2 linked regions of the Homo sapiens genome follow. The protein of the gene in region 2 interacts with the protein of the main gene of each other region in a pairwise test. Each region holds a gene or a part of one and is shown on either strand. Other genes may lie near its edges. The genes, in order: SLC18A2 and CXCR2.

Evidence for each region.
Region 1: the proteins of CXCR2 (region 2) and SLC18A2 interact in binary tests that used the Homo sapiens proteins (3 or more experiments, as listed by UniProt).

Annotation. Positions count from the first base shown.
Region 1 is NC_000010.11:117,239,720-117,244,173, reverse strand, and holds the start of SLC18A2 (synaptic vesicular amine transporter), read right to left. Parts: upstream 3,061-4,454; 5' UTR 2,954-3,060; intron 2,514-2,953; exon of another isoform or gene 2,496-2,513; 5' UTR 2,481-2,495; coding exon 2,360-2,480; intron 2,290-2,359; exon of another isoform or gene 2,177-2,289; intron 204-2,176; coding exon 1-203. UniProt on the Homo sapiens protein: Electrogenic antiporter that exchanges one cationic monoamine with two intravesicular protons across the membrane of secretory and synaptic vesicles.
Region 2 is NC_000002.12:218,132,528-218,136,336, reverse strand, and holds part of CXCR2 (C-X-C chemokine receptor type 2), read right to left. Parts: intron 1,561-3,809; 5' UTR 1,536-1,560; coding exon 453-1,535; 3' UTR 1-452. UniProt on the Homo sapiens protein: Receptor for interleukin-8 which is a powerful neutrophil chemotactic factor. Binding of IL-8 to the receptor causes activation of neutrophils. This response is mediated via a G-protein that activates a phosphatidylinositol-calcium second messenger system.

The sequences.
Region 1 (4,454 bases), on a different chromosome or scaffold from region 2:
GGTCACCATGTGCTGTGTGGCGGTCTGATGAAGTGTCAGGTCTCTGGTAGCATTCCCGGTGACCATAGTCGAGTTATCATAATAGGAGAAGATGCTCTGGAAGCTGTCTGAGATGGAGGCAGTGTGCACTGGCCTGGCCGTCTGGATTTCTGTAGCATTCTTCTCATGCTTAATGCTGTACAGATAACTTGGGATGATGGGGACTGGGGATAAGAGCAGAATGGCAAGGTGGTGATCACACTGAAACCCTCTCCAGGAAAAAAGCCAGCAAAAAACTATGGTTGTGTCGGCAGGGAGCAGTGGCTCACACCTGTAATTCCAGGACTTTGGGAAGCTGAGGCAGGTGGATCACCTGAGGTCAGGAGTTCGAGACCAGGCTGGCCAACATGGAGAAACCCTCTCTCTACTAAAAATACAAAAATTAGCTGGGCGTGGTGGCACCCACCTGTAATCCCAGCTCCTTTGGAGGCTGAGAAAGGAGGATCGCTTGAACCTGGGAGGTGGAAGTTGCAGTGAGCAAAGATTGCACCACTGCACTCCAGCCTGGGTGACAGAGTGAGACTCTGTCTCAAACAAACAAAACAACAATAACAACAACAAAACTATGGTTGTGTCAAATGCCAGAAGAGGTCCAGAGGGTGACAGGTCTACCCCAAAACAGGAGCCCTGTGCCATATGTCTATAACGACATTGGAGCAAGTTCACTTTACTTAGCTCACTAGAAAGAACCATGCCCCCAACGGCCCTGAGAACTGTCTCCTCTCAAAAGGCAGCTGCTGTGCTGAACTGACTGGTCCCAGAGATTCTGTCATTTGTGGGTTTCTTCCACATTGTTCCTTCAAGGAATATTTCAGAAAAGCAAAATGTGGCCTGACGTTAAGAGAGTGCTGACCTGGAGTCAACCAGTGCTTCTAAGAAAGAGAGGCTCAAAAGACTTTCAAATGAATGAATCAAGGAAACAGAAAACTACACTTCATTATGTGTCTTAGAAAAAAATTAACCTGCAGGAAGTAATAACTTGGAAATTCTGCAACAGGCCCACTTCATCCTTCTATTATGAGTGGGAATCTGTAATTTTTCCTACAACTTGTAAGATTTAAGAATTCCTAAGGCTTTCACAAGGAAAAAGCAAAACTGAAACAGGCCAGGCACGGTGGCTCAGGCCTGTAATCCCAGCATTTTGGGAGGTCGAGGCGGGTAGATCACCTGAGGTCAGGAGTTCAAGACCAGCCTGGCCAACATGGCAAAATCCTGTCTCTAATAAAAATACAAAAATTAGCCAGCTTTGGTGGGGCATGCCGGTAACCCAGCTACTCGGGAGGCTAATGCAGGAGAATCACTTGAACCCGGGAGGTGGAGGTTGCAGTGAGCCAAGACTGTGCCACTGCCCTCCAGCCTGGGCAACAGAGTGAGACTCCATTTCAAAAAAACAAACAAAAACCAAAATAAAAAGCAACAACAAAAAATACAAATTAAATTGTGAAACATATAATCGAAGCTGTGAGCACATGTGTCCAATGGAGCATTCGAGCCGAAGCAGAACTAATGCCGTTGGTACTGAACAGGGATGAGCTCCACGGCTCTGATAACTCCTCGAGATGAAACCTATCAGATGCTCTGAAAACTGCTGTGAGAAAACCTGCAAATGGAGAGAAAGGAAACAGCTCCCACCACTTACAGTCTAAATGAGTCGTGATTTTTTTTTCATTCATTAAAAACTGGGATTTTTTTTTTTAAGGAAATGCATGCCAAATACTTCTCTGTTAATGGGCCTAATTAAGGGACCTGGATTTCGATTATTTAATTTTTCAAAATTCCACTATAGGAAAAATAATAGAACCAAGATTGTTCAAATTGTTCTTGCAATGGTTCCTGAAATATTTCCATCTCAAGTCATTCACTAATACAGTATATCTAAATGTCTTGTTTTTGGAGTAAGGGATCGAAACTTGCTCTTTTAGGTACTACACCAAATTACTAACCTGCCTTTTCGAGTAGCCCAATAATTATTCTAACACGTAATTTTGAACTTTAGGAATTTCTCTTTTGGAACAGAAATCTTTTTCATCGCAGTGAAAGCAGGCAAGAGGATGCGGGAAATTATCAGGGGGAAACATAAGTTCTGGGTCTTATCGGATGTCACAGTTTTTGACCCGAGCATCAGGAAAGCGAAGCCACACAACGCGGCTCCTCCTAGCCCCGGCGCGGCAGCCTGGAGGGGATGTCTTTTTTGCAAAGCGAGTTCTCCAACTTTCCCGGGCCTTGGCGGAGCTCCGGGACCGCGCAGGGGTAAGTGGAGTGCCGGGGAAGGGGCGCTGGGGCTGGGGTGCCGGGGCAGGGGTGCCCTGTCCGCACGTACCCACGACAGTGAGCAGCATGTTGTCCAGCAGCAGCGCCAGGAACACGATGAACAGGATGAGCTTCCGCGAGCGGCGGCTCTCCTGCAGCCAGCGGACCAGCGCCAGCTCGCTCAGGGCCATGGCTCCGGGGCTCCGCTGCGGGCGCGGTGCGCGGTGAGGACCCAAGGCGGCCGTGGACCCCCCATTCTCCCGTCCCCCAGGCCGCGGAAGGGCGGGTCAGGGAGCCGCGCGCACCGGCATCCGGGGACACCCCCGGGCGCCCCAGCCTCGGCTCACCTGCCTCGAGCGCGTCCCCACGAGAGCCCGCGCTCCCTGGAAAGAGCGCCCGCGAGCGCCGTCGGGGACCCAATCTGGAGACCCAACCTAGAACCCCCAGGACGCTGCCCTGATCCCCGCCGCCCCCAACTGTGCCACCTCCCAAACTGCACGCTCGGCCCCGTGCACCTTGCGCCCTGCGCCCTGCGCCCCGGCTGCCCCGGGGTCCCCGCAGCCCCGCCCGCGTAGCTCTGGGGGCCTCCCTGCCTCCCTGCCTCCCCCGGGCCCGCTCCCCTCCGGCACCGCGCCCTGCGAGCAGGGAACCGGGGCCGTGTTACCTCGGGGTCGCTTGCGATGCCTGCCCGGGTCCTCCGTGCCCGCGCCAACGCCCGCACCGCAGTGGGCTCCGTCAGTCCGGGCGGCTCCGGGTCGCAGTCTCCGCCCCAGCGCCCCGCCGCCGCCGCTCAGTTTACCCCGTCCGGCTCTGACGTCACGGCCGGAGGGAGCGGGGGCGGGGGGCTGGGGCGCCCCGGCCTCCGCCCGCCCGCGCCGTCGCTGCGCAGGAGGGGCTGCCGCCTCCCTGTCCCCGCCTCGGCCGCGGCCGCGCCTCTTCCCCGGACCCAGCGCGTGGCCGAGTGCCTTGGGGACCCAGGCCTGGGGAAGAGGCAGGGGCGCAGAGGGAAAGAGGTCAGAGAGCCTGGACGAAGAGTGAAGGGCCAGGGACCAAGGCGAGGAGGCACGGACCAGGGCTTTCTTGTGGCTCCAAGTGGTGGCTCGAGCTGCTTTGAATAAATCACGTGGCTCTTTGAGCCTCAGTGTCCCTGAAATGGGCCGTGAGGACGGGAATGATGGCCGCGGGGTGAGATCGCCAGGGGTGACAGGTGCTGGGAGCCAGGGACAGGCTTCCCTTTCCTGAAGAAGCCACCCTTTGCACCCACCATCCCCTCCCCTCTCCGACCTCTGCAGCCCGATGCGGGGTGCCACTCGGAGGAGCCTTTGAGCCTTGGGCATCCTCAAGCTGGTGACTTGGAAACGGGGGGGGGAAGGGGACACTTTTCAGTGTCGCCCTATGGTGGGAGTTGGGGAGGTGAGGGTCCCAGGTCTCAGAAAGTGGGAGCAGTGGGTTTGGGCCTCTGGGGCCACCTGAGCAGGGGACCCTGGAGGCTAGGTGAGTACACCTGGCCTCAGAGAAAGGGCTAGGGGGCGGGCTGTGGGCGGGGCAGCAGGCCTAGGCCCTGTGTCCTGTACTCTCTCCCCACCATGCTGTGCCTGGGCGTCTGGGTGAGAGGTGGTTCCTAGAGCCAGGGGCCTGCGTGTGGCTGGTGCAGAGCTGTCATCCTCACTGCTAAGGGCTAAGAGCCTGCCTTTGATTTCCAGGTCCCTTTTATAAGCAAAGGAGAAACAAACAGATGCCCTCTGACATCGCTGGAGCTCTGCAGGCCCTCCGAGGGGACCGTGGGAGCAAGAGCTGTTTTCTTGAAAAGCTACCTAGAATAAATGTTACCCTGTCACAGTCTCTTAGCAGAAGAGTGGGCTTGTTTTATTAATGTTAGCTTGTTGACAGCAGGAGGCCACTGAGAACAGCAGTGTGATGTGTGGCTGCCCCCGCTCTCTCCACCTCCCTACTCCCTTGCAGAGACCCCCTGTGCTTCTCATTGCTACCCCATGTGTGAGAAGAGATGGTTGAATAGGTAAGTAGGTCAGGAACATGGGTCTCCAGGATGTCACAGGATGTGCACAACTTAAACATTAAACAGGGAGGACAGAAGGAAAACCACTTAGGAGGAGGAAGCAGATGGCAGAGAGCCGTTTAAGATGGCAGGAGGGTATCACTCAGGG
Region 2 (3,809 bases):
TCAGCCTCCCAAGTAGCTGTGATTACAGGCACTCACCACCACGCCCGGCTAATTTTTTTTTTTTTTTGTATTTTTAGTAGAGACAGGGTTTCACCCCGTTGGCCAGCCTGATTTTCTTTCTTTTGATACTAGCCATCCTAATGAGTATGCAGAGCTGTCTCACTGGAGTGTAGATTTTCACTTCTTAGAACATAGAGTGCCATGGGCTCAGGGGCAGGATGGGCAGAGCTCCAGCAAATGACATAGTAATTATGGCAAGGGGTGAGGCACCAGGGCAAGCTTTCTAAACCATGCAAGGGAAACTAGTAAGAACGTGGCCTCCTCTACTTCCTGTGACCACAATGGGGGCTGCATTGACACTGAGACCAAGAAGAACCAGTGGACATGAGGCTTGGAATGTGACTGTGAAGAGAAGGGAGGAACCCCACGGGGCTGCACTTAGGCAGGAGGTCTTAGAGAGTAGTGGAAGTGTGCCCTGAAGAAGAGCCAACAAAGGAAGGCCTGCTGTCTTTGGGCAGGGAGTCCTTGCTGATCAAGCCATGTATAGCTAGAATCTTGAGGAGTCCATGGCGAAACTTCTGGCCAATGAAGGCGTAGATGAGGGGGTTGAGGCAGCTGTGAAGGATGCCCAGAATCTCGGTGGCATCCAGAGCCCGGTCGATGTGATTGCGGCGCTCACAGGTCTCCTGGATCACCTGGGTCCTCATGAGGGTGTCTGCCAGCAGGACCAGGTTGTAGGGCAGCCAGCAGAGCAGGAAGATGAGGACGACAGCAAAGATGACCCGCATGGCCCGGTGCTTCTGCCCCATGTGGGCCTTAAACAGCGTACGCAGGGTGAATCCGTAGCAGAACAGCATGATCAGCAGTGGCACGATGAAGCCAAAGGACTGGGGCAGGATCCGTAACAGCATCCGCCAGTTTGCTGTATTGTTGCCCATGTCCTCATAGCAGGCTGGGCTAACATTGGATGAGTAGACGGTCCTTCGGAAAAGTAAGACAGGCAGGGCCAGGAGCAAGGACAGACCCCAGATGCTGAGACATATGAATTTGACCAAGTAGCGCTTCTGGGTCAGTGTGCGTGTGGCATGGACAATGGCCAGGTAACGGTCCACACTGATGCAGGCCAGTAGCAGGATGCCACTATAGAAGTTGACTTCCTTCAGGAGTGAGACCACCTTGCACAGGAATGTGCCAAAAATCCAGCCATTCACCTTGGAGGCGGCCCAGATGGGCAAGGTCAGGGCAAAGAGTAGGTCGGCCAAGGCTAGGTTCAGCAGGTAGACATCAGTGACGGAGCGGCCGACCCTGCTGTATAAGATGACCAGCATCACGAGGGAGTTTCCCAGCAGGCTCAGCAGGAATACCAGGGCATAGATAATGACCACAAAATACTTGTTGATTTCCAGGGATTCTGGTTCACATGGGGCGGCATCTAGTAGAAAAGGGGGCAGGGTAGAGCTGTAACTGTAATTACTAAGATCTTCACCTTTCCAGAAATCTTCAAAGCTGTCACTCTCCATGTTAAAATCTTCCATTTTTGAGGTAAACTTAAATCCTGACCTATAGAAGAGAGATGAAGGTTACTGCATAATAAATTCCCCATATTCTTGCCCATCCACTCAAGAAACTGGGATAGGATTCTTTGTGTTGGCTTGAGTATTACAATGTAGTAATTTTTCCCTTCAAATTTGTAAGTGGTAGCTCTTAGGTTATGAGATAAATTTGGTGATAAATGGTACATTTTATGAGAGGACCATAGTTCTCTTTAATATAAGAGAGAAATTCTTAGCATTTCTTTTAGCATCGCCATCACCTAAAACTTTGTAGAAAGTTCTCTTTGGATAATCCCCACAGAACCCTCAATACTACCTGGATCCTTCAGTGGCGAGCATCTTTGGCTATCAAGGCTGGGTTTAATGTTCAGAAATGTGAGATGTGAGATGTCACTCAGTTCTTTTTTTTTTGTCTTAGAGATGGGGACTTGTTATGTTGCTCAGGATGGTCTTAAACTCCTGACCTTAAGTAATTCTCCTGCCTCTGTCTCCCAAAGTGCTGGGAATATAGGCATGAGCCACTGCACTCAGCCCCATTCAGTTTTTAATCAGGGGATTAAGCAGGAACTCCAAATGGGCTATACCCTCAGAAAAGATCATGGTTTGACTATAAAGCTGAGACATGAATCCCTTTGTTCAATTTTCTAAAAGTTATTTTAAAAGATGTATTCTGGAAAATGGTTTGAACAATTGTGGCATGGAGTTTTGGAAGGCTCGAGCTAGCAGAGTCTTCAGTTAATTAGTAAGGCCCAGCGTTTCTCTTTTGGGTAGAAGGAGACCCGCTTTGGGAATGTCTGTGTAGTTTGGAAAAGTATATTAAAAACAATAAGCAAGCGGGCTGCCTGATTCTCCCTGTGGGTGGAAACGTAACAGGTTATTTGGGGAGCTCTGGGCAGCCATGTGCCACCATGCGGGATAAGCAGACACAGCCAGTCTGCTACCCAATAAGAGAGGGGCAGCAGGAAGCAGAGAAGACAGGGTTTGCACTACCCTTGCTTGGTGGCTTTCCAGCCCTGCTGGAGACCCTTCCTGTCCTGCATGTGTGTGCCTCCATCTAGCCTTGACTCCCCTGTTCCTCTCAGATTTAGTCTAGCTCCTGGGGCTCTGCCCTTGCCACAGGGACAGCACAGATCCTGCTCTGGGGAAGCCTGGGTGTGGAGGGTGGGCTGCAGTTATTCAAAAATATTATCCCAGTGGTGGCTCACACCTGTAATCCCAGCACTTTGGGAGGCTGAGGTGGCAGATCACTTGAGGTCAGGAGTTTGAGAGCAGCCTGGCTAACATGGTGAAACACTGTCTCTACTAATAATACAAAAATTAGCCAGGTATGGTGACGTGCACCTGTAATCCCAGCTACTTGGGAGGCTGAGGCACAAGAATTGCTTGAACCCAGGAGGTGGAGGTTGCAGTGAGCCGAAATCACATCACTGCACTCCAGCCTGGGCAACAGAGCGAGACTCTGCCTCAAAAAAAAAAAAAAAAAAAAAAAAAAATCCCAGTTTCTCAAAGCAGTCAACTAAAGCAATCCAGCTCCCTAATTAGCTTCTTTCTGAACCACAAAATAGATCACCCTCCGGCCATTGCCTTAGAGTAAGGGATGACCACCCTACCACCAACCATGTCCAAGTCCGTAATCTACCCCCAAAATGGAACCCAGTGTGAGAGAAAAACCAGGAAGTTAAAGGTCCCAGAACCCACTTCACACTCACCAGGCTGGGCACACTCAGAAAAAGATGCCCAAGAACAATGTGGGTGAGGAAGTGGAAAAGTCAGAACTCTCCCACATTGCAGGTGGGAATGTAAGATGGTGCAGCTGCTTTGGAAAACAGCTTAGCAGTTGCTCAAAAAAGTTAAACATAGAGTTACCACATGAACCAGCAAACCCCAACCTAGGTATACACCCAAGAGAATTGAAAGCTAATGTTCATAGTAGCATTCATCATTAAGGCCAAAAAGTGGAAACAAACCAAATATCCATCAACTGATGAACGGACAGACAAATTGAGGAACAGTCATGAGCAACTGAAAGACTTTTTGGTCAATGACACATCACAAATACCACAGTGGTCCCATAAGATTATAATACTGTATTTTTAGTGTTCTTTTCCTATGTTTATATATAAGAATACCATTGTGTTATAATTACCTACAGTATTTAGTACAGTAACATGCTGAGTAGGTTTGTAGCCTAGGAGCAGTACTCTACCATATAGCCCATGTGTGTAGTAGGCTATAGCATCGTATACTCTACCATGT